Linked DNA regions of Homo sapiens. The protein of the gene in region 2 interacts with the protein of the main gene of each other region in a pairwise test. Each region holds a gene or a part of one and is shown on either strand. Other genes may lie near its edges. The genes, in order: ATP5F1C, PNO1, SGSM2, RXRG, SUPT5H, PDPK1 and FRZB.

Evidence for each region.
Region 1: the proteins of PNO1 (region 2) and ATP5F1C interact in a two-hybrid assay, tested with the Homo sapiens proteins (one large-scale study listed by BioGRID and IntAct).
Region 3: the proteins of PNO1 (region 2) and SGSM2 interact in a two-hybrid assay, tested with the Homo sapiens proteins (one large-scale study listed by BioGRID and IntAct).
Region 4: the proteins of PNO1 (region 2) and RXRG interact in a two-hybrid assay, tested with the Homo sapiens proteins (one large-scale study listed by IntAct).
Region 5: the proteins of PNO1 (region 2) and SUPT5H interact in a two-hybrid assay, tested with the Homo sapiens proteins (one large-scale study listed by IntAct).
Region 6: the proteins of PNO1 (region 2) and PDPK1 interact in a two-hybrid assay, tested with the Homo sapiens proteins (one large-scale study listed by BioGRID and IntAct).
Region 7: the proteins of PNO1 (region 2) and FRZB interact in a two-hybrid assay, tested with the Homo sapiens proteins (one large-scale study listed by BioGRID and IntAct).

The regions. Positions count from the first base shown.
Region 1 is NC_000010.11:7,794,677-7,798,176, reverse strand, and holds part of ATP5F1C (ATP synthase F(1) complex subunit gamma, mitochondrial isoform L (liver) precursor), read right to left. Parts: intron 2,057-3,500; coding exon 2,022-2,056; intron 1,131-2,021; coding exon 999-1,130; intron 1-998.
Region 2 is NC_000002.12:68,160,888-68,164,387, reverse strand, and holds part of PNO1 (RNA-binding protein PNO1), read right to left. Parts: intron 2,706-3,500; coding exon 2,622-2,705; intron 2,124-2,621; coding exon 2,063-2,123; intron 1,843-2,062; coding exon 1,725-1,842; intron 1-1,724. UniProt on the Homo sapiens protein: Part of the small subunit (SSU) processome, first precursor of the small eukaryotic ribosomal subunit.
Region 3 is NC_000017.11:2,365,001-2,368,500, reverse strand, and holds part of SGSM2 (small G protein signaling modulator 2), read right to left. Parts: coding exon 3,444-3,500; intron 3,287-3,443; coding exon 3,160-3,286; intron 2,999-3,159; coding exon of another isoform or gene 2,862-2,998; exon of another isoform or gene 2,835-2,861; intron 2,127-2,834; exon of another isoform or gene 1,688-2,126; intron 1,463-1,687; coding exon of another isoform or gene 1,441-1,462; exon of another isoform or gene 1,345-1,440; intron 1,337-1,344; coding exon of another isoform or gene 1,271-1,336; exon of another isoform or gene 1,237-1,270; intron 1,231-1,236; coding exon 1,096-1,230; intron 1-1,095.
Region 4 is NC_000001.11:165,417,627-165,421,126, forward strand, and holds part of RXRG (retinoic acid receptor RXR-gamma), read right to left. Parts: intron 2,389-3,500; coding exon 2,244-2,388; intron 1-2,243. UniProt on the Homo sapiens protein: Receptor for retinoic acid. Retinoic acid receptors bind as heterodimers to their target response elements in response to their ligands, all-trans or 9-cis retinoic acid, and regulate gene expression in various biological processes.
Region 5 is NC_000019.10:39,462,582-39,466,081, forward strand, and holds part of SUPT5H (transcription elongation factor SPT5), read left to right. Parts: intron 1-2,216; coding exon 2,217-2,468; intron 2,469-3,500. UniProt on the Homo sapiens protein: Component of the DRB sensitivity-inducing factor complex (DSIF complex), which regulates mRNA processing and transcription elongation by RNA polymerase II.
Region 6 is NC_000016.10:2,586,521-2,590,020, reverse strand, and holds part of PDPK1 (3-phosphoinositide-dependent protein kinase 1), read right to left. Parts: intron 3,346-3,500; coding exon 3,128-3,345; intron 1-3,127. UniProt on the Homo sapiens protein: Serine/threonine kinase which acts as a master kinase, phosphorylating and activating a subgroup of the AGC family of protein kinases.
Region 7 is NC_000002.12:182,835,638-182,839,137, forward strand, and holds part of FRZB (secreted frizzled-related protein 3 precursor), read right to left. Parts: intron 2,977-3,500; coding exon 2,772-2,976; intron 2,375-2,771; coding exon 2,311-2,374; intron 1-2,310. UniProt on the Homo sapiens protein: Soluble frizzled-related proteins (sFRPS) function as modulators of Wnt signaling through direct interaction with Wnts. They have a role in regulating cell growth and differentiation in specific cell types.

The DNA.
Region 1 (3,500 bases), on a different chromosome or scaffold from region 2:
GTCAGTTGAGATACTGAGGATTTGGTAGATAAATAGGGGGTTCACTGCATGATCTTCTTTACTATCAAATATGCATAAATCTTCCTTAAGTTAAAAATTCTTTTAGATAGCCTCAACTCAGGATAAGACAGCATGATCATAAAAAAGTTAAGAGAAAGAATGTAATTACAAGTTAAAATAGAAACTTCTTTCCCATTTCCAGCTCTTTACAACTTTATTTCCAAGATGAATTCATAATCAAACAAGTATAAAAGCATCTAAAAACACAATATAAATTCTTTTTAAACTGTCATATCTCATCTCTTTTCCATTAAGAAGACTAATTAAGGATGGATTACATAAATTTCTGAAGGAAAAATGTCTTCATGCTTTTGAAAAGATAAGAATGGTGATTAAGTATCTTGAAAATGGAGGTTCTCAGCTGCTTTTCCTGCTTCAACATCGTTCGGATTCTCAAAACACCATCATGAGTCATATCCATGACCACAAGGCCAGCTCTCCACTGCACTGCCCCTCACCCGCCCCCGCTGCAGTCCTAAAATGCCACACTACAAGGTCATAGGATGAAATTAAGCCCTTACATCTAACGCACGGTTTCCAAGTTCTTCTGATGGTATACTTAACAACTGGGAACATTTCAGAATATTTTAAAAGTTAACATGGTCACGTATAATGGCTAACAAATACACAGACTCGACACCAAACCACATAGGTCCAAACAGAGGCTCTTCATCCTTTTATATGTGATCTTAGGCAAGTTACTTAACTTCTGTGTGCTTCAGTTTTTCTCACTGGAAAGCAGGGATTCTAACAGTCCCTACCTGTACTACCTACACGGGTTGTTATCATTACGTGTCAAGTGGATGTAGATGAAAAATAAGTACATGGCAAGTGCTCAGATAGGCTTGACATCACTGTAAGCTCTAAATGTAAGTCATCAGTAGTCTTCCTTGTGTGAAACAGTTCTTCCTAATTTGTGAATTACACTCTTCCCTTACCTAAAGATCCCAATCCATATATTCGAGCTGGTTTCAGCTCTCTCTCAGCTCGGGCATATTTTGCTGCCGCTACCATTTTCATAGACTTGGTAATTTTCTGGATGTTTTTGATGGACTTTAGTCTCCTGGTGACTGAAAAATAGAAGTACTGTGTTAAGACAAAGGAATTACAGTATAACTTCCTTGTGAATTTATTGACATATTTTTCTGAAGTGCAAGGCAGAATAATGAGCGCTTAGATAAACAATAAACAGCACGATGCTAAACCAGTCTTAATATTAGAACTAGTACTAATAGCCGGGCACGGTGGCTCACGCCTGTAATCCCAGCACTTTGGGAGGCTGAGGTGGGCGGATCACGAGGTCAGGAGATCAAGACCATCTTGGCTAACACGGTGAAACCCCGTCTCCACTAAAAATACAAAAAATTAGCCGAGCGTGGTGGCGGGCGCCTGTAGTCCCAGCTACTCGGGAGGCTGAGGCAGGAGAACGGCGTGAACCCGGGAGGCGGAGCTTGCAGTGAGCCGAGATGGCGCCACTGCACTCCAGCCTGGGTGATAGAATGAGGCTCCATCTCCAAAAAAAAAAAATAGAAATAGTACTAATAAAAGGAAGGCAAAACTAGCTACTACTTAGGACAAGCAAATGGCAACATAAGACAATAATATACATTTAAAACATTAAATGGTATTGAAAGTTGCCTTAACCACATATTCCATAACATTATTTATATATAACATGATTTACCCCTTCCCACACATACACCCACCTACACCAACACTGGTATAATTTTTTCTAGTTATATCATGATCATTCTACAAACAACAGAACATAGCTGTCTCAGGTGTCCTTTCTTACTGGTCTTTTCAGAACAAGTCCAATGTCCCAAACATACAATGGAAATCCATTTGGTCAGTTTTGATCAAATACACAATGGGCTAAAGCAGTATATTTTTGAAAGTATTTGTATTTGTCAAAATTTAGTTTTTCTCAATTCACATATTGAGACAAACAACATACTTACTATCTTTCAAAGTTGCCATATTTCGAACTTGAATCCTGAGGATAAAAGTTTTAAAAATGTTTCAGTTTTTTGAAAAATAGTTCCATTATACAAGAAAAACTTTCAGTTAATATATATTTATTTAAAGAATACCCCATAAAGAAACAATCTATCAAATACAGGACTCAGAATGTATATGAATAGACATATATTTAAATCCCTTAGTAGTGGCGCAAATCCCTGTATTGAAGGCCTCCTTTTATTTGGCCTGTCTGTACCACCACCTTCCCAGAAGTCAACATGCTCTATTGACTCACACATGCTCTAGTCCCACCTCCATATCTTTGCTTATCTTGTTTCCATGACAGAAAAGCCCCTCCCCTTGTTAAGCTGCCCAACTATACTTCGAATCAAGGCCAGCCACTCTAAAAATTTCCTTAGTTCACAGCAACCTCTTCCAGTAACAGAGTCAATGATATAGTCGAACATGACTACACGTGTAAAAGTAGTTTATATAAACTGATTCTTAACTTTTTCAATTTAGCTCAATAAACATTTACCAAGATGCTCTAAATTCCAGGCACTGGTAAACACGACATGGTCTCTGACATATTGTTACCTTGTAAACAAGGTTCATAAAAAATTACATTTACATAACATTTAGTATTTTTTTTCAAGTCTTTAAAATTGAAATGCTAATGTGCAGAAGTCAAAATGATTAGGCTTAAATGAAATGTTGGTGAAAGATGAATATGAGAGAATTCCTGGCCTAATGGGGGAAGACATGCTAAAAAATATTAGATGATCTTTCTGCCTTCAAATCCATACAAAGTGCCTGTGTTTGCAGGCAAAGCTACACAGGAGAACTGAGCATGATGAAATGTGTGCACAAAGTAGAGATGTGAGGAGGGGATTCTCGGGAACAGAATGTCATTTTAAGAGCATTCATGATCAGGAAAGAGTGAGAAATGGAGAAGGGGAAACTGGACACATGAGTTGGGTTTGTTACTTTAAATAATTAATATTTTTAAATATCAAAAAAAGCAAATTGGTTTAAATCTTATTTGTAGGTTAATAGGGAAATGAATGTTTATAAGCCCACAAATCAGTTTAGTATTTCAGCAAAGTATCTCACATGGCAGTGACAAGCGTAAAATGAGGTTGGAGTTTTGATGAACACAGAAGACATGGGGATGTAGGCTGCCACAGCCTCAGGAGAGACCTCAAGAACCTGGATGAAGATGCTGGCAAAGCAATAGGAGACTAGATTTGCAAGCATTTAACTTCTTCACATGTACATTCGTAGTAGAAAGGAAAGCAGTAAGAATGATCTAAGGTTTCTCTAATTGAATGACCTTGGTGGACAGTGACTAATATCTCTCATGAGCATAGGTTAGAGGCAAAAATCCTCAACAGTGTATTAGCAAATCAAATCCAACAATGTATTAAAAATAATTATACACCATCACTACGTGGGATTTACTCCAGGTATGCAAAGCT
Region 2 (3,500 bases):
TCCCAAGTAGCTGGGACTACAGGTGTGGGCCGCCACACCCGGCTAATTTTTGTATTTTTTTGTAGAGAAGGGGTTTCACTATGTTGCCCAGGCTAGTCTCAGACTCCTGAGATCACGCCATCCACCTGCCTCAGCCTTCCAAAGTGCTGGGATTACAGATGTGAGCCACCATGCTTGGCCATATTTTTAAATGTGGTGTGCATTTGCACATTTCCAGTTCAAAATAGCTTCTCCCAAGGCTCCATATTTCTGACTCTAGGCTCAATCCATAAAAGATCAAACAATATAATTATATGCCTGGCTTCAGGTAAAGAGGGCCACCAACACAGTAGTATAGTTATCCTTAAAGTGTAAAGAATGTACAAAATTTAGGTTCTATATAATGAAGAGTCCTTCAGTATGGAGCAAAATTGAGATATTAAATGAAATTATTTCAGAATTTAGTCATAGGCAGAACCCTCCTCCTCTCAGTCAACTGTTCAGTTTCCCAACTTCATGGCATTATATAATCTCTGAGCCATCTGCCAGTAAGATCCCCAGCCTGGGCAGCTTCAACCTCAGACAGGGGTAATCCCAGCTTCACTTCTGGCACCTTTATTTTAAGCCCCTCTCATCTTGTTTATGTTCACATATAACTGCTCTCTAGTTTTGCCTAATGTACGATATTCCCCTCCTTTTATAAAAGGCCTTAACATATATATGTATATACATAAAGTAGATATATACTTCTAAAGACTCACAAGGGCATCTGAAATAGTGATTGCTTGTTCTCCCCTAGTGATTTAATAGATTCCCTTGAGTAAGTATGTATGTATGTATGTATGTATGTATGTATGTATGTATGTATTTATTTATTTGAGACAGAGTCTCACTCTGTCGCCCAGGCTGGAGTGCAGTGGCATGATCTCGGCTCACTGCAACCTCCTCCTCCTAGGTTCAAGTGATTCTCCTGCCTCAGCCTCCCGAGTAGGTGGGACTAAAGGCGTATGCCACATGCCCGGCTAATTTTTGTATTTTTAGTAGAGAGAGGGTTTCACCATGTTGGCCAGACTGGTCTCGAACTCCTGACCTTAGGTGATCCGCCCGCCTCAGCCTCCCAAAGTGCTGGGATTGCAGGCGTGAGCCACTGTGCCCAACCCGAGATATTATTTAAATCTTCACCTGTAATAATTTCTTTTAATAGCATTTCCTCATTGTTAAATGAGAAAAGAATATATAATTTCTTAAATTTTCTCAACTTAAGCCTCTTTCAAAGTTGGTGACCATCTATTCACCCAAAAGTATACAGATGATTCCCAACTTAACACGGTTCGAACTGGGATTTTTCAACTTTACAAGGGTGCAAAGGTGATACACATTCAGAATGCTCTACTTCAAATACACATACAACCATTCTGTTTTTCATTTTTAGTACAGTATTCAATATTCAACACTCTGTCATAAAGTAGAATTTGTGTCGGATGACTTTGCCCAACTGCAGGCTAATGTGTGTTCTGACCATGTTTATGATAGGCTATGCTAAGCTATAATGTTCCATAAGTCAGGCATATTAAATGCATTTTAGACTTATGATATTTTCAATTTATGATGGATTTATGAGGAGCATCTGCACTGACAAAGATTTAGCAGCAACATTATGCATAAAATACAACTGTTATGACTTTCTTAAAACAAAAGATCAAATATAAATTATGACAATAATTTTCTCAAGATCAGATACTTACACATCAGCCAAAACTATCCTTGTCCGTGTCACATTCTCTATGGTGAATTTGGTTTTTCCTCCTTTGCCAGCGATTCTTCCTATTGCCCTGGATAGATGGTCTCCCTTTAGGGGTTTAACTAAACAAGAAAAGCAAGATCTCAGGAGGCAAGCCATTCTAGTGTACCACCCATTCCACATAAAGTTTAATCATAAACTAAATTTCTCTAAAGGACACAAAGTGTATATATATATATATAAGTTGCTAAAAATACAGCTCAATTGATGCTATTAGAAAACTGAGAGTCACATCACAATACAAAGTCAGCGACACAAGAGCGCAGACCAACACACACTCACCATCTGTAATTTCAAAAGACTCTAGGAAGAGGTCATCCAACCTGATGAGGGCAAGTGCATCCTATAATATAAAAACAAACACCGTGAAGCCCCTTCCATTTGCACACCTGAAAAAGAGTAAAGTGCAAAGCACTATGGAACTAAAATCCACAAACTCTAGAGCTAGAAAGCTTTTTTTTTTCCCTTGGAGACAGAGTCTTACGCTGTCGCCCAGGCTGGAGTGCAGTGGCGTGATCTTGGCTCACTGCAATCTCTGCTTCCCTGGTTCAAGTGATTCTCCCACCTCAGCCTCCCAAGTAGCTGGGACTGCAGGCATGCACTACCACACCCAGCTAATTTTTTTGTATTTTTAGTAGAGATGGAGAGTATCGCCATGTTGGCCAGGATTATTTTGAACTCCTGGCCTCAAGTGATCCACCTGCCTCAGCCTCCCAGAGTGCTGAGATTACAGGTGTGAGCCACTGTGCCTGGCCTTTTTTTTTTTTAATGCCTAATCCATTGAAATGTTCACATTGAATATTTTTAAAGTCCCCATTTTAGATATCATGGAATTACTCACCTCCACCTGAAAGCCGAGAATAAAAGCTTTCACAAAATCAGCTGCTTTTGTCAGAGCACTAACATCCTTGGTTTCTTTACAAGTCTGTTAAAAAACAAAAAAGGGTACAAAATACCGTTGAGAATCAAACAGAAAATGTCCTAACAAAATACTGGAAATGTCCTTTCCCATTATTGGAGAATTTCCTTCACCACCACCTTTCCCTAATATATTCTGTATGACACAGGTTCTGGTCAGATAAGTGCTGTACTTTATTTGCAAAACAAAACGTTCCCAGCTCCAAAGCTTGGCTGTTCCACCCAAAGAGTGTCAAATAACTAACCGCACTATATGATCAGATTTTGGGGTTAACAGCAAGACTCCTCTGGCACAACCCAATCTCTCCCATTCTGAAGAACCTCTACCTTCTGTCCATCCCTTCAATGCCCAATGTCCTCTTCTCTTCTCTCTCAAGGCAGTCTTCCCTGGGATTCCTGACTTAATCTTCTTAGTTATCATTTATATGCTGATGTTTCTTAAACCAACAGCTCCAGGCCTAACTACCTGCATGCACTGATTGGGGAAATAAAGAATGAATGAAGCACTGAACCTGTCCTCAAAGTTTATTTGAGAAATGCAGAAATAACTGTTATTCATAAAAAGCCTACCACTGTAAATAACACGTACTATAAATAACATGCTTTACACACCATAACTCTAACCTTCACAACAACTTTGAATGTTAAGTGATATGACTACCTTCGTATGTGAGGAAACTAAAGTACTAAAAAGCAAAAAAGGTAAGATTTAAACACAGGTCTGATTTCAAAACTGTTATTTCCACTGTCCCATGCACATTCACAGTCTAGTTGAAGAGACCACGTATTCAACAAATGTAAA
Region 3 (3,500 bases), on a different chromosome or scaffold from region 2:
GAAGCCTAAGGGGAGTGTGACATATTCTGAGGACATCCTCTGCAGGGGCGGGGAAAGGGAGAAGCAATTGATTTTGTAGCATGGGAATGGGTGGGAATGGGGAAGCTCCCCTCGTCTCTGGGAGAACTGGCCTCAGCCTCTTCCTACCCACCCCTTTCTGGAGCACCCATCCCAGCCCTCACAGGTCGCCTGGCTGATTGCTTGCTGAAAAGAGGGGGGCTCCCTCTCTACCAAGCCAGCTCTGTGCTAGGAAAGATGGGTGGTAGGCAGAGGAACCCTGAGAGGCTGAGGGCACTACGCTATCACCTCCAACAAAGGTGACCTCTCCATTCGTGGACCCTGAGACTCATGAGGGCAGGAACACATCTGTCTTATATCCCTGGCGCAGGTGAAGAGACGGAGCTCCGGGATAGTGAGAAACTTGCTCAAAACCACACAGTGAACCAGGGGCATATCTGGGGCGGGAGTTCATGTTGCCAGGCCCTGAGCCTGGCCCCTTCCTGGACACCATGCTGCAGCTATTTCTAGATTTCATGCCAAAGTACCAGGCCCTGCCGGCTGGGGCCCTCAGGCCTCCTGGGAAGACTGAGCCCTGGGGCCCTTCGCATGGCAGCCCTCAACCCCTCGCCTGACCCACAGCTGCTGCCCCTGCCCCAGGAAGGACCCGGTACCTCCATCCTGTTTCTGTTAAGTCAGGAGTCAGAAGCACCAGGCCCAGAGGCTGGTCTTCCCAATCAGCAGAGAGAAAGGAAGAGACCTCTGTCTGGCATTTGCCAGCCTGACCCCCGGAGTAGGAATGGGCTCAGAGATCCATTCAGGGTGCCCAGGAGGCAATCAGATAATCAGACCTTCCTATTAGCAAATCCTCTTCCTCCTCACAGCCTGGAGCCACCTGCCCTGGGCCAGCCCCTTTTCTTGCCAGCACCTGTCTGGCCTCCTTCTGCCCTCCCTGATCTGCCCCCGATGGAAGGGAACTGCCCTGGGTGCAAGTCCCCTAATGCCAACACTGCCGTTCGAACCCCTGTGGTGGGTGGCAGGCGGGCCCGGGAGGGAGGGTGGGGATGAGGTGGGTCAGGGAGAGGGAGGGATAAGAACCTTTCATCGGATTGGGAGCTGTGAGGTTCCGCGAGCAGATCATTGAGAGCATCGCGTGCAGTTTATCCTCCTCTTCCTCATCATCGTCCACCGAGGCCGCGCGGCTGGCCGCTAGGTGGTGGTAGTTAATAGTGACTGCTCAAAGAGAACAGCGAGAGGCAGAGGCATGAGGCCCTCATCCCTGGGCAGGACGGACTCCCTCCTTAAGGGGAGTGGAATGGAGGCCGGGGTCATCGTGAATCTGCAGGGCACAGAAGAGGGGAAGGGAGGGGACCAGAAAGCTCTTTGGATGATTTTCCTGGGAGAGTGTGGAAGGAGGCGAGGGGCTGGGGCAGCTGCAGAACCTCACTCTTCGGAGGCAGCCTCTCTAGGAAGAACAGAAGAGAGAGAACAGAGGTGGGAGGATGTGAAAGACCGGGACTGTCTGGGATGGGCTGGCAGCCCAGGAGGTCATCGGCCCTCACAGAGGCTGCGCATGACAGCTGGCAGATGGGTCCTGATCGTTCTCTAGCTCCTCTCAGGCTGGACCAAATCTGAAGATTACTCCAAATCCCCTTTTTCAGACTATAAATTCCACCTTCTTCCCTCCCAGGAAAAGGAAAGGGTTTTCCCAGAGCTGTCCTCAAGGAGCTGGAGTCGCTTGGTGGAGTTTCAGCCTCTGGGTGCCCTGGCTTGCCCTTGGCGAGGTGGTCCTGGAAGTGAAGTGACCAGGACTGGGAAATGGCAAAGATCGAAGAGGGGAGGCAGAGACTGGAGAAGCTAAACCAAGCAACAGCCTGAGACTAAGTGCCAAGTGTGTAAATACATTCTGGCCAAAGATGCGTCTCTTTGTCAGGTACATCTGGGAAGGGGGGACATCCCTGTGCCGTGTGCCCTCTGAGCCTGGTGGAGCTATCTGTGCTGTGGCTGAGTGTGCCGTCTGGGCAGTCCGGTCCCTAATACAGAGACAACTTGTTGACAACTTTTTGGCACAAGTTGGAAATTTAGGGAGCGGGTGGTCTTGTTAGCAATAAACGCTCTGGGCTGGCAAATTCCCCGACCTTATCTGTAAGAAAAGCAAGTCTGCCCAGAGAAGCCTATGGGCAGCAGCAGCACTCTGACCAGAAAGGGAACTTTGGTGTTGGTAGATGCACATAGACAGAGAGACCCCCTTGGGCCCAGGGGTGTGTGTCCAGGGTGGGGCAGGACCCACAAGGGCCAAGCCGCCTTTCTACCCGCCAGTGCCCAAAGCCCCCAGGCAGCCCCGAGTCTGCCTCTGATGCAACCTGCTACTTCAGCTAACGCTCATCAGTAGTTGGTTTGAGGAGGGCTCTGGCTCTAGGGGAGTCAGCAGACAATATTCACCATCCAAAAAGAAGCGCTGGGCCGGGCGCAGTGGTCACGCCTGTAACCCTAGCACTTTGGGAGGCTGAGGCAGGCAGATCACAAGGTCAGGAGTTTGAGACCAGCCTGGCCAATATGGTGAAACCCCATCTCTACTAAAAATACAAAAATTAGCCGGGCATGGAGGTGTGCGCCTGTAATCCCAGCTACTCAGGAGGCTGAGGTAGGAGGATCGCTTGAACCCAGGGGCAGAGGTTGCAGTGAGCTGAGATCACGCCATTAAACTCCAGCCTGGGTAAAAGAGCGAGACGTCGTCTCAAAAAAAAAAAAAAAAAAAAAGTAGCGCTGGTCCCATACCCAGGCTGTCTTGTAGGGGTTGGGGAGCAGGAGGTGAAGAGCAATGGAGGGTTCCCCACCTTCTACTTCTCGTTTCTCCACGTGTTTTACCCCTGGACAGGGTCTGAAAGGATAACTAAGAGTCTTGTGTAGTGACGCCTAGGTCTGCTGAGCCAAGAGTCCTGGCGTGGAGAAGTGGGGAAGGGAGCTGGGTAGAAGAGACGCACCTTTTCAAAGGCAATATCTGTGGGTAAAAGGTCCAGCTGAGAGGCTAGGCGATGAGCCTCTGGTGTTAACCTGGCCTGGTCAGTGGGCCCTGCCTGCTGCCCTCCTGGGTGACGCTGCGCTCCCCGCCTCCCAGAGCGTCTTCCTCTCCTCCCCCGGGATGAAGCTCGGGACACTCACTGTGCTCGTGCCTGTGGCCGGGGTAGATGATCCGGAACACATAGTCGGTGGCCCGCCCCGTGCCCATCTCCTCCATATCCACGGAGCGAATGCTGCTTCGTTTCCGTAGCTTGGGGAACACTTTCCCCTGTGGAAGGAGGGGTAGGTGGTCGGGCTGTATAGGGCAGAGTCTCATCCAGGGTTCCACACAAGGCCGCTCCTAAGAACTCCACGTGGGGAAGGAAGGGAGGCGGGCAGAGAACCCCACACACAGCCCTTCCCCTAAAGCCTCCCACCCGAGTTACCTTCCCTTGCTGGGTCCACAGCGGGGGCTCTAGCTGTCCCCGAGGCAGCAGCCCATT
Region 4 (3,500 bases), on a different chromosome or scaffold from region 2:
AATTATAATTGAGACCCAAGTTCTTAGGAAACCTATTTAAATTTATTATCCTTTACCATAAACTATGAACAGAATTCTGAGTTATGAATTGTTAAGTGCTATTGACTGTTGAGGAAATTAATTGCTGTTTGATCTTTATATCATCATATGACAATCAAGCTATGACATAAAGATCTGATAGAAGCTGATTTTGCAGCCGGGCATGGTGGCTCACGCCTGTAATCCCAGCACTTTGGGAGGCTGAGGTGGGAAGATCACTTGAGGTCAGGAGCTTTTAGACCAGCCTGGCCAACATGGTAAAACCTCGTCTCTGTTAAAATATATATATACAAAAATTAGCCGCGCATGGTGGCACATGCCTGTGGTCTCAGCTACTCCAGAGGCTGAGGTATGGGAATCACTTGAACCCTGGAGGCGGAGGTTGCAGTGAGCCAAGATCATGCCCCTGCACTCTAGCCTGAGTGACAGAGCGAGATCCCGTCTCAAAAAAAAAAAAAAAAAAAAAAAAAAAGAAGGTGATTTTGCTTAATCCAGACTAATTTGTTGCATATTTCATTGCCCTTATTACCTGTCCACACATGCAGTTTTCAATTACCCCAGGCAGGGGTGGCTAATTTAGGTCAGGAGAGCCACCAAGCCCATCCTCAGACAGGCATCATGAATCAATCACAATCCTTTTTCTAGGTAGAAGTCTTCTTAATACCAGGCACTATGCTTGATTGATTGAAATTGCAGAACTTCAAAAATATAAGGAAACAAATCATTCAAAACATATTTGTGTCTGATTCTTTGAATGTAATATGTGATGTCATTGAGTTACAGAAATGACATGACTTTCTAATTCTGTTTTACTTAGGTTTCCAGCATCTCAGGAGTTTACAGTTCAGAGGAAGCCACTGTAAGATGAAATGATGGGTACAGATAGCCTGCCTGAAGAAAAGCCAGCCTTTGCCTCATTGGTTGACCATACTACAGGCCGGCTTTTCACATTGCTGAACTCACAGCAATGATAAATACAGGATTTTATCTTGGGCCCAGAAAACCTAGTGCTCTCAGTTCTGAAATATTTGTCTTAGAGAAATATGGGACCAATTTTTCAACTGTGTGACATAGTCATTCCCATGGCTTTTCAATATTTAAATGAACCTCATAGACTTTCAACTAGAATAAGCATAGCAGAGAAAACACTGTCGGGCTGTGGCTGGTGTGCTATTATGGCAATGGCCAAGTCTGCATGATTTGGGAAATATTTTTTGAGAGCAAGAAAACATCAGCCATTCAGCTAGGTAAGTTCTAGGTGCCTGGAACTTTCAATGGAGTGACATTCTTTAGTGGCTTTGGTGGCATTAAGAGTATAAGGAAATATTCAGTTAGCCATCATGGACAGCTATAGAAAAGAGAATAACCTCCTCTTATTATTGTTCTTCAAATAATCAAATCGGAGATTCGGATGTGTTCAAAATTGATGGGGAGGGAAATATGGGGCAGGAAGAATGGAGAGGAAAGAAGCAAGGAAAGAAATAACTGAGAAAAGGAGAAGAGAATCAAAGATAAGTTGGTGAAAACACATTTATTTCTGCCTATAAAAGCATATTGAAAATCTAGAATGTTATAGCAAGAAATACGCTAAAATATTAAAGGGTTTATTTTTCTTGGGGACATTATGGGTAATTTTTTTACTTTTCTTTGCAGTTTTCTAGTTCGTTCAAATCCTCTACATTAGGACATTATTTTTACAATTGCTTATCTGGGAGGGGTTATTCTTAATACTTTTTTTTTTTTGAGATGGAGTCTCATTCTGTGGCCTAGGCTGGAGTACAGTAGCGTGATCATGGCTCACTGCAGGCTTGACTTCCCAGGCTCAAGCTATCCTCCCACCTCAGCCTCCCAAGTAGCTGGGACTACACCAAAGCACTGGGATTATAGGTGTGAGCCACCACACCCAGCAGAAATACTTGATAATCACAACAGCTTCTGTCTCTCAGATACATGTGTAATAGTGTGACTCCAGAGAAGGGTTTCTGAAATGTTTCCTGTAAATCTCATCCTCAAAAAATAAAGCCATCCTTTAAATTCATCAAAACGGCAGCCTGTGAACCCAGTGACATAAACGTATAGGTGGGTCCCCAGTTAGCCCATCCTAAAGGGCCATTTTCCTTTCATTGAGTACAAAGTATCCAGGCAGACAGTGAGCAGCCCCTTCTCTGTGGCACTTTTCAGGGAGTGTCTGCTTCTGCATGTACCTGAGGATCTGTCTCCACAGATGGCACAGATGTGTTTAACCAGAGATCCGGGGCTGGTGGATGGGTAGTTCATGTTTCCAATCCCGGGAAGCCCTGGTAAGGGCTTGATGTCCTCTGAACTGCTGACACTGTTGACCACATTTAGCTGCAAGAGAAAAAAATACTGTAAAGCACAGAGCCAGAGTAAATTCAATCCCCAAGGCCTAAGGCAATGAGGGCTTACTCAAGAAAAAACAAGTTCTATTTCAAGAAACAGTTTCCAAGTACAGAGTATTTGAAACTGCCTATCTGTGAGATGAACTTAAGGGAGGGATAAAAGTGCCATAGGAGGAACAAAATTATTTCTAGAAGCCAAAACTTAAACCAAAAATCACAACACATCTCCATTAGAGTCTATCTGCTTTTATTCATTTTACTCATATGTTTTATTTAAGCTAGAAATCCATGCCAAATTACACACCCAGGACAATGTCAACTGTGTATTTTAAAATTTTTATCAACTATTGACTGCCTATTCAGCCGTGCTGCAAGAGGAACTACGACCCTCAGGCTAAAGACTTACACTCTAAGAGAGCCAAGCAAAAAAATGCAAATTCATTCATTAGTCAATCAACAGATATTCCCTGGGCACTCAGAATGCCAGACACTGTGCCAGGCTCTGGGGTACAAAGGCAAAGAAAAATACACACCCAGAAGGAGTTCACGGTAAAATGAGAAAGGACATGTGTAATGGTCATCTCTGCAAGCACACTGAAGATGCTAACTCGAATACATCCCTTATTGTAAGTTAATATCAGCTCCCCATCACCATCCCTGTATCTCCCAGTGCTCTTGGTAAGATTCCTCAGAAACTGAGGCTAAGTATCTTGTGTTCACCAAAGAAAGCAAATTGAATACATTTGAGCCACTCATCCAATCAGCAATAGAAACCCAGAAGGTATATCTCTCATTCCTCAAAAATGTACAATGTCATCAAGGAGTCAGAACATGCACAAAAAAATAAGAACACTTACAAGCAAGTTCAAACGAAGGTGGTGCAGGATATGCATGTTCGTAATTGTCCAATAGAAGTAAAGGTTTAGTGGTTAGGAACTACTGACTTCCCATGGTTTGTCTGAATTTTGAATCATATTGCCTAACCAAAGGGACAATAATACTCAAACTGAATCAAAGGTATGATTTTCCTCTCTATTCAAGGCCTTTGGGACAGAAGAAAGGTTCAATAAAACAGAAACTACAATAGAGCCTAAGCTAGGT
Region 5 (3,500 bases), on a different chromosome or scaffold from region 2:
ATGTAATGGTGCAGTCTTGGCCCACTGCAACCACTGCCTCCCAGGCTCAACTGATTCTCCTGTCTCAATCTCCCAAGTAGCTGGGATTACAGGCACCCGACACCACGCCTGGCTAATTTTTGTGTTTTTAGTAGAGATAGGGTTTCAGCATGTTGGCCAGGCTGGTCTCGAACTCCTGACCTCAGGTGATCGGCCCACCTCGGCCTCCCAAAGTGTTGGGATTACAGGCGTGAGCCACTGTGCCCAGCCTTAATTTTCTTTTTTTTTTTTTTTTTTGAGACAGAGTCTCGCACCGTTGCCCAGGCTGGAGTGCAATGATGCGATCTCGGCTCACCGCAACCTGCACCTCCCGGGTTCAAGCGATTCTCCTGCCTCAGCCTCCCAAGTAGCTGGGATTACAGGCACCCACCACCATGCCCAGCTAATTTTTTTTTTTTTTTTTTTTTTGGTATTTTTAGTAGAGATGGGGTTTCACCATGTTGGCCAGGCTGACCTTGAACTCCTGACCTCAGATGATCCACCCCTCAGCCTCCCAAAGTGCTGGGATTACAGGCATGAACCCACTGCGCCTGGCCAACCGGCCTTAATTTTTGTATTTTTAGTAGAGGCAAGGTTTCACCATGTTGGCCAGGCTGGTATTGAACTCCCGACCTCAAGTGATCCTCCTGCCTCGGCCTCCCAAAGTGCTGGGATTACAGGCATGAGCCACCGCTCCTGGCCTTTTTTTTCTTTTAGTTGGTATTTACAGCTATACATTTACTTCTAAGCATGGCTTTTTTCAAATCTCATAAGTTTTGGTATCTAGGAGTGTGTTGCCATGTATTTGTGAATTTCCTAAGTATCTTTCTGTTGGTTTTTAACTTCATTACATATGGATGGAGAATATACTTTATATGATTTTAGTTCTTTTATGTTTACTGAGACGTGTTTTATGGCCTAACCTGTGGTTTATTCTGGAAAGTTTAATATGCCCTTGAGAAGAAAGTGCATTCTGCTGTTGTTAGATGGAGTGTTCTTTTTTCCCATTTCCGCTTAATAAGTGGAAAGTGAAGACGAAATGTTCTGTCTATAGCTGGCTATTAGGTTTAGGTGGCTTACAGTGTTGCTCAAGTGTTCTCTTTCCTTGTTGATCTTGGGTCTAGCTCTATCCATGATTGAAAGCAGGGTATTGCAGTCAGTGATTGTTACTGTTGAGTTGTCAGTTTCTTCCTTCATTTTCATTAGTTTCTGCTTCATGTATTTTGAGGCTCTGTTAGTTTCATATACATTTGTAATTCTATCTTCCTGATGGATTGACCTTTTTATTGTTACAAAATGTTTTTTGTTGTCTCTGGTAGCAATTTTTGTCTTAAAGTATATTTTGTCTGATGTAAGCACTCCTTTCTTGGTTCTTCTTCTAGTTGCTTTTTTTTTTTTTTTGAGACGGAGTTTTGCTCTTATTGCCCAGACTGGAGTGCAATGGTGCGATCTCAGCTTACCGCAACCTCCACCTCCCGGGTTCAAGCGACTCTTCTGCCTCAGCCTCCCGTGTAGCTGGGATGACAGGCATGTGCCACCACACCCGGCTAATCTTGGATATTTTTAGTAGAGACAGGGTTTCTCCGTGTTGGTCAGGCTGGTCTTGAACTCTTGACCCCAAGTGATCCACCCGCCTCGGCCTCCCAAAGTGCTGGGATTACAAGCATGAGCCACCGTGCCCGGCTCTAGTTGCTTTTTTACACAGAACATATGTTGGATAGCTTTCTATATTAGTACATACAGGTTAATCTAATTTTTATTTTATTTTTTATTTTTAAGAGACAGGGTTTCACTCTGTTGCCCAGGCTGGAGTGCAGTGGTGCGATCTCAGCTCACTGCAGCCTCAACCTCCCGGGCTCAAGCAGTCCTCCCTGCTCAGCCTCCTGAGTAGCTGGGACTACAGGCATGTGCCATCACACCCAGCTAGTTTTTGTATTCTTTAACTGCAACATTGTATTTCATGGTACATTAAGCCATAAGTTAACTAGTTACTGTTTCTGGATATTTTTAAAATTTTTAGTCTGGTTTGTTTGCTGTGATAAATAATTCTGCAGGGAACACCTTTGTGTCCATGTCATTGTGCCAGTGTGTTTCTGTGGAATAAATTCCTAGAAGAGGGACTGCTGATGAGTGGCAGTCATTTCTGTTATTAGCCGTTGTGTCTCACTGTTTCCTCCTTCCACCGGCTCACCCTGCAGCCCCTGCAGATCAAGTCAGTAGTGGCACCAGAGCATGTGAAGGGCTACATCTACGTGGAGGCCTACAAGCAGACCCACGTGAAGCAGGCCATTGAGGGGGTGGGCAACCTGCGGCTTGGCTACTGGAACCAGCAGATGGTGCCCATCAAGGAGATGACAGACGTGCTCAAAGTGGTGAAGGAGGTGGCCAACCTGAAACCAAAGTCCTGGGTCCGCCTCAAGCGGGGCATCTACAAGGATGACATTGCTCAGGTGCCCGGGGCGGGGTGGCATGGGGGTCAGGGTCCCTCCATTCTGTTCTCCCTTCCTTTCCTTTTGTCCTTCCCACCCTCTTTGTGCTGCAGAGAATAGAATCCCACTCAGATGAGTTGAAGCAGAGCCTGGGTTTTGTGAGCACACAGGAAACGGTTGGCTGTCTTCTGTGCACATTCCCAGGCGTGTTGAGTAAAGGTCTGAAGGATCGGAGGGCGTGAGGCATGTGGAGCTCTTGGGGAGGAGTGTTGTAGGCAGCAGGAGTGGCCTGTGAGATAGGATGGCACAGTCACTGGCTACAGCAGGGATGGCGTGAGATGAGTTAGGGAGCTCACGAGGGCCTGCGGCCCATTGGAGAGCTTTGGTGTTTACTGGCGTAGGATGGGAGGGCTGTAAGGGACACAGGCAGACTTCAATGTTAATAAGATTTCTCTGGTGACTGTGTTGAGACTAGACCACTGGTTCTCAAGCCAGGGTGATGTTTCCCCAGGGGACATTTGGTAACGTCTGGAGACATTTTTGGTTATGTCAGCTGGGGAGGGGGTTGACGATTATGGCATCTAGCAGGTTAAAGCCAGAAATGCTAGACACACACATCCTCCAATGCACAGGATGGCTGCCCACAACAAAAAATTACCTGGCCCAAAAAGTCAATAGTGCCAAGGCTGAGAAACCCGGGAATAGCCTGGAGGGGGCCATGGGCAAGAGCGTGGAGACCAGGGAGGAGGCTGCTGCTGTAGCACATCCCACCCAGATGGCAGTGCTGGTGGGATAGGACCAAGACCCTAATACACGTTGAGTGTCTCTAACCTGAATTCTTGAGACCACAGGTGTTTTTCAGATTTCAGATTTTTTCAGCTTTTGGAATATTTGCATTATACTTACCGGTTGAGCATCCCAAATCTGAAAATCCAAGAGTGAGCATTTCCTTCGAGCATCATGTTGGTGCTCACAGGGTTTCCTATTTTTGAGCATTTTGGGTTTTTGGATTTGGAATGCTGAGACTGCAGTGGAGGAGGGGAAGAGGTCAGG
Region 6 (3,500 bases), on a different chromosome or scaffold from region 2:
TCAACTCCCTCTTCGTGCCTGCAGTCGTATCTTGAATCCAGCAAGTTTCGACTGCATTGTGGACTGTGGCAGCACAGGATGACCAAGCCTGAGGCTGTGCTGCAGCCGGAGGCTTTGTCTCTCAGCTACCGTGTGGCCTCTCCAGCCTCTACAATGCAGCTTCTAAGAGCTTCAGTGACTCTTTAATTTATTGTCTGAAAAGCTGTTACAAACAACATTGGATTTTAAAGAGCTCATCACACATATTTTTGAAATGTTCCTTTTAAGTGTAAACTATTCCATGTAAATTTAAAAATTCCTTTTACCTTTTTTTTTTTTTTTTTTCCAATTTTGAGACAGGGTCTCACTCTGTCACCCAGGCTGGGGGGCAGTGGCAAGCTCTCTGCTCACTGCAGCTTCAACTTCCAAGGCTCAGGTAATCCTCCTACCTCAACCTCCCCAAGCAGCTAGGACTACAGGTGTGCAGCACCATGCCTGGTTGATTTTTGTATTTTTTGTAGAGACAGGGTTTCAGTTTCTTGCCCAGGCTGCTCTCGAATTCCTGGCTCAAGTGATCCACCCACCTTGGCCTCCAAAGTGCTGGGATTACAGGTGTGATCCTGAACTTAACTTACCGTATTCTCATGTAGGCACAAGGAAAACTTCAGGATTTCAAAATAATGATTCAGTGGATGATAAAATTACAGAGGCTATAGCAGGTATAAATGAAGAGATAGTAAGAGCTCAGTAGAAATATTGAATATTAATCTCAAAAAATGCATACATTGGCTGGCGCGGTGGCTCACACCTGAAATCCCAGCACTTTGAGAAGCCGAGGTGGGCAGATCACTCGAGGTCAGGAGTTCGAAACCAGACTGGCCAACATGGTGAAACCCCTTCTCTACTAAAAATACAAAAATTAGCTGGACGTGGTGGCATGTGCCTGTAATCCCAGCTACTCAGGAGGCTGAGACAGGAGAATCACTTTAACCCAGGAGGCGGAGGTTGTGTGAGCAGAGATCACGCCACTGCACTCCAGCCTGGGCGACAGAGCAAGACTCTCTCTCATTTAAAAAACAAAACATATTGATACCAAAAACCTATGACCTTAGAAAAGACCAAAAGCACGCAGATTCCATTCTACAGCATGTGACCACTGAAAAACTCACCATACACGCACAGAGAATGACAGCAAAAAGGCAAATAACATCTTAGTATTACAAAAAAAACTGCCCTGACCTCGGGGATTTGGTGGCCACACACTGAGAATGCAAACCACTACTGTAAAGAGCAGGTGCTGGACAGACCTCCCAGCAGCCAGACAGATCCTGCAAGATCTCAGGAGTCATCAGCTTCCCAAAAGGACCTAAAATCTGAAGGAAGTGGGAAGGGGAAAGAGAAACCTGAAGACAAAGGAAGCAGGCAGGAGAATGTGTATCCTGACTTGCCGCCATCACCAGGCTAAGGTACCCAGACGGACCCCAAGGCCCTCTAAGAACAGCCCCAGGCAGAGGGGCCTCTTCTGGGAGTCACCAAAGGAGCTGAAACACACACACACCTGCAGACAGCACCTCTCAGCTGGGATCTGCAGAGAGAGCGCTCCTGGCCAAGTACTTGGAGTGGCCACAGCAGCCCTTCGTGGGGACCCCAGCACACACGAGCCCGGGAAGCTCCTTGCATAGCCAGGCACACGCCTCCTTGCTGCTTGGAGCTGCGCAGCACAGCACGGCTCAGATTGCTCCCATCAAGAGCCCTCCTCTCCTGCTCAGTACACATTAACATCTCTAGCAATCACACTAGGTGTGATTCAGAGCCCCTAGCTGTAGACTGTTGCTGCCTGCCAGCATCTCTGCACAGGTTTTCTAGAGACAGGTGTGGCGAACCGCATAGAGCCGTGGTCTTCCCCACCTGCCGGGGCGGCCCAGAGCTCAGCTCCTTCCTCTCATTCCTCCCCACAAGTCTCTCAAGTCACATGTGTCCTGTCCCTGCCTAGCCAGGCCCTCAACTCCCCCTCGTCTTGTGCTTCCACTCCAGCATGCCTTCCTGCAAGGCCCTCTCCCCACCCCCTTGGGCTCCTCTCTGCCCACACAAAAGGGAAAAGCAGGTAAAAATATTAGGGGGGAAGCCCGTCTTACCAGATTAAAATGGAAAACATAAAATATAAATAGGGACAGGATGGACTTGGTAAGAATTTGCAGCTTCCATACAAAAACACAGTATCGAGACTGGAGAGAAACTGAAGAATGTTTGCAAAACATACAACAAGGAATAGTCTCCATACACGTGGCTTTTAAAAATCCATGTTAAAAAGAGGCACCAGCCTGGCCAACACAGGGAAAGCCTGTCTCTATCAAAAAATACAAAAATTAACCAGGTGTGGTGGCAGGTGCCTGTAATTCCGGCTACTTGAGAGGTTGAGGCAGGAGAATTGCTTGAACCCAGGAGGCAGAGGTTGCAGTGAGCTGAGATCGCGCCACTGCATTCCAGCCTGGGTGACAGAGCAACACTCTGTCTCAAAAAAAAAGATGCAAAATATACAAGAAAGAATAGTCAAAGGACACAAAGTACCTCAAAAAAGAAACACAAATGGTCATGAACACAGGAGACATCTGCCTCAATAGGAATAAAACAGAAATTCACAAGTTTGTTTTTGGAGCATCAAAACACTCTCAGGCAGGCAAGAGCATTGGGAAAGGCAGATTCCTGGCGCCCCCGCGACAGATCCCCAGCCCTGAAAACACGCACGCCCTCCATCACACACTGCCCCTGGCACTCACCTTAGAAGACATAAATGGACAAGTGGGGAAAGCTATGTGGAAAAGAGGGGCTACAACAGCAAACCTCATAAACTCCCAAGTGGCCAGGTCCAGGCCGCGTCTGTCCATACCACAGTGACTCCATGGCCACAACCAGCAGGTCCAAATGCCCGGCAGAGGAGGGGAGCGCCCGGCGGTCACAACCCACTCAGCCCCTGGGCCGGCTGCCTCCTAAGCACCTGTTTCCAACTGTGCACTTACGATGTGCTCCTTGGCCAAGCGTCCAAGGCTGCTGAGGGAGGCAGTGACAAGGCAAAGGCACCCACCATAAGCCCCCACGTGTTCACGCTGCAATTCTGCAAAAAGCATTGCTTATGTCCATAAGTTCTTACCAAGGGTTTCCGCCAGCCTGCTTCTCCAACAACAACCTCTTCTCATCTTCGGAAAACTGTAAGTCCAGTTCAAAGGAGTTCGAGTCCAGATCGTGAATGTACTGCTCTATGTTGCTGCCTGACCTCTGGGGCAGGCCCGTGTCGGAGGCTGACAGGGAGTGTGAGGAGGAGGACGAAGACACCTGCATGCAGCCAAACTGGCTCAGGAGATTGTCATACTGCAGAGAAGAAGGGAAAGTGAGAACCGCACCTTCACTTGCCTCTAAGGTCCTAAAACCCCAGCCCCTCCCGCACTGCCGCTGTCAGGCCTTGGGAGCTCGCACACAGCAAGGCGCAAGGCGACAGGGTGGGCAGCCCTGATTCTCCTCCATGG
Region 7 (3,500 bases), about 110 Mb from region 2:
AGTTATATTACATGAGGATAGGTAGGGAATACGAACTACAGCTGTACTTCCCAAACTTCAAACACGGATATCATATGGGGAATTTGTTAAAATTGCAAATTCTCATTTAGCAGGTCTGAGACAGGGCCGAAGATTTTCATTACTAACAAGCTCCCAGGTGATACCTATGTTGCTGATCCAGGGACCACACTTTAAAGAGCAAGCACCATCAGATCCTTGGGTCAGATGGCCCAAGTTCAAATTCTAACTCCACCACTTACTGTGTGAAGTTTCTTGAACTTACTAGACCTCATTTTCATCATGTATATGTTGGAACTGATAATAGAATCTACTTATAAGTAGATACATCTGAAGATTAATAAAAATATAAAGTGCTTAGCACATAGTAAATGTGTTATTGTTTTTCTGTTACTGAAGGTAATTCTTCATTTCAGTATTCTTTACTCCACAATCTTGTCTTCATATTTTAAAAACAGTCTGATTCTCAACTTCCCAAGGAAGTCCAAACATCTTGAATCGTCTGCTATAAGAGACTTAGGTAAACAACCATTTGCATGAAAAAAACATAATAATGTTTCTTATAAAATTATTGATTCATCCACTGAGAGCAAAACTCAGCTAAGAGCAAATCTGATTGAAAAAATAACATCCTCCATAAAACTCTTTTTACACATCTTCAAATTGACTGGAAAACTAAAATAGGAATCTCAATAATTCTGGCCAAAGGAGATTTTCTACCCAAACTCTTTAGCCCTCAATATCTGCATATGAATTTAAAATTGTTCAAATTATTGGTTTCTTTCCTTTAGAATATTTAAATCCAGACTGAGAATATAAATGACTTTACAATAATAACTCTGCAAGTCCCCTGCGGAAAACAATGGGAAATATTGCAGAAAGCAATGGGAAACAGGACAAACAAGCCATGTGTCCTGTCAACAACACAATGATATTGTTTTGGTACCAAAAGAGGAGCAGTAAGCCTTGTTACATGCTTCGCAGCAGGGATATTGAAAGCTTTTCCAACTGGTACAGGAATTTAGGACAAATTCCAGTTCTGCATTAGCAAGCAGAAAACCAAATTAAAGACAGTAAGAGATTCCAACATACTGAACAAGAGCCACTTTTTTCTTTAATAAACACCAAACTAATTGAAGAGAGATGCAGAGAGAATGCCCGCAAGTCTGAACTTGAAATGCATCTCCCTTTTGACAAATCTACTAAAGGGGAGAAGAACTTACTGGAGGGTAGTTTCTCCTTACAAAATAATGCCCTCTACATTTTTGTAGGTCACTTAAACCCAAACGTGTCTGCCGTGTCAAGTGCCAGATGTATAAGATAAACCGCCCAGGGGTGTTTAACTTACCATGTAAATGTTTCCCAAGCCTTCAAACTTGCAGAAGGAAGAGGATGTATTATGTTTGGTACAGTTCCCACTCCCCCCACCCACCCACACATCCTTTGAGATTTTTTTGTCCCCCCATGCATTCCCCCACCCCATTCTTTTCTTTAAAACAGATTTGCTTAGTGCAGTAAGAAGAAACAAAACCTTCTATAATACAGTACTGTACTATGTGATTTTAAAAAATGTATCAATTCCACAATCTAAGAGTTATTTGGCTTAAAAATAAGGCTACATTACTGCTCTAAGGACCTAATTTATTCAGATCTCTTCTATACAGATGAATGTAGCTACACTTTGTACATAGGAATTGCTGTTTATTCATCGGACATCATTGTTTATTTTCCTTCCCATCATTTATTCTCCCCTTCTCACAAACTGCAGTTTGTTCAAAGAAGCAATATCCCCAGGTTTAAAAAGACTACATTTTCTAGCCTGTTTTGCAGCTAAGTAAAAACTGCTTGATGAGGCTCTTGGAAATCCCTTTTACCTCCTCTTTTTCCTGCCTGAAATGTACATGTGATACTAGAGGCAGAGCAGCCATCTTGTGACCTCCAGGTGAACATGAGTATGAAAGCGATGCCTTTAAAAATGGTAGAGTGATAAGCTAGAAGGAGCCTGACAACATGAAACCACCCTACCAGGACTGGACTACAGCTAGACTCCTTGTGAAGAGACATTAGGGCAACTGTAGTTAGATCTTTGATACACATACAGGGAACTCATTCCTTAAATAAAATAGACATTAAAGACAAATTCAGCTCTTGGAGTATATAAATATATGCATACTAAATTTTAATATTTCTCATATGGTTGAAGGCAGCTATTTCATTTCAATGACAGATGGCTGGTTTTCTACTTTTGTTTTGTTTTCTGTGTATTACTTCAAACATAAAATACAGGCTTACCTTAACTTTTTTACCGAGTCGATCCTTCCACTTCTCAGCTATAGAGCCTTCCACCAAGAGTAATCTGTATTTTTGAAAGAAGCAAACATTTTTGAAAAATTAAAACCTGTTACTGAAAAGTACAAGGAAACAGTACTTGAACAAGAAAGACTTATATGTTTATTCTTGAATAGGACAGCTAAGATTTAGAACAGTAATTATTAACCATTTGTAAGTCACAGACCCCTTTAAGAAACAAATGAAGTTATGGCCCCTCTCCCAAGAAAAATGTAAACCTATAAACTACACGCATACACCCATTCCATATATGAAATCAAGAAACCCAACTAAAACTTATCTGTAATCCCCAAGAAGGTAGACAGATCCCAATGTAAAAATGCGAGGGTAGCATCTCTAGAGACAAATTTAATGAGAGTAGGATAAGCAAAGTAGTTATTCTGTATCCTTAAAGAGTGAATTACCTGGAACGTTCCTCATCTTCATAGCCCATGATGATATATTCCTCATTAACATTAAGTGGAGGGCAGAGGCAGCCAGAGCTGGTATAGAGGTTGACAGTGTCCCGTGGAATGTTTACCAGAGAGGACTTTAGAATCTCCTTCACCTCCACTACTGCAGTCACATCATGGCACTTAGTCTTTATCTCTTTAACTTTAGCCCGAATGACTGGGATAAAAGACAAGAAAAGCTGATAATAATATGACACATAATAGCTACCCCATTCAAAAAAAGCCAAAGTAGGCTTCTCTTTAGTTAATTCTTATCCACTTGATATTCAACGAATGGAACAGAAAAGTCAGCCAGATATTTTTGCCTTAGACTGTAGTGTGTGACATAAAACAACACACCTGACCTAATGCTCAGCCCTGCTCTCTTTCCAATTTGTGGCTGTGTATATATTTGCATGTATTTATGCATGTGTGTGCATGTGCTTTTGAGAAATCCATTTAGAGAATCAAAGATTGAGTCAACAATCTGATACAATTTTTCTCTAAAATTCCATTTTGGATGTGTATATATGCATGTGCAGTTCCAATTGCTGCCAAGAGGAATTTAAACTATGTTAATTTTACTATATGAAAAGACCTAATACTTAAATATGCTTTATTCCTTGTCGACACTGTTTTATCAGGTCCATTAACAGGTTTTCTCAAGTAGTGGGCCTCTGTAATGTTATAAAATTGTCCTGC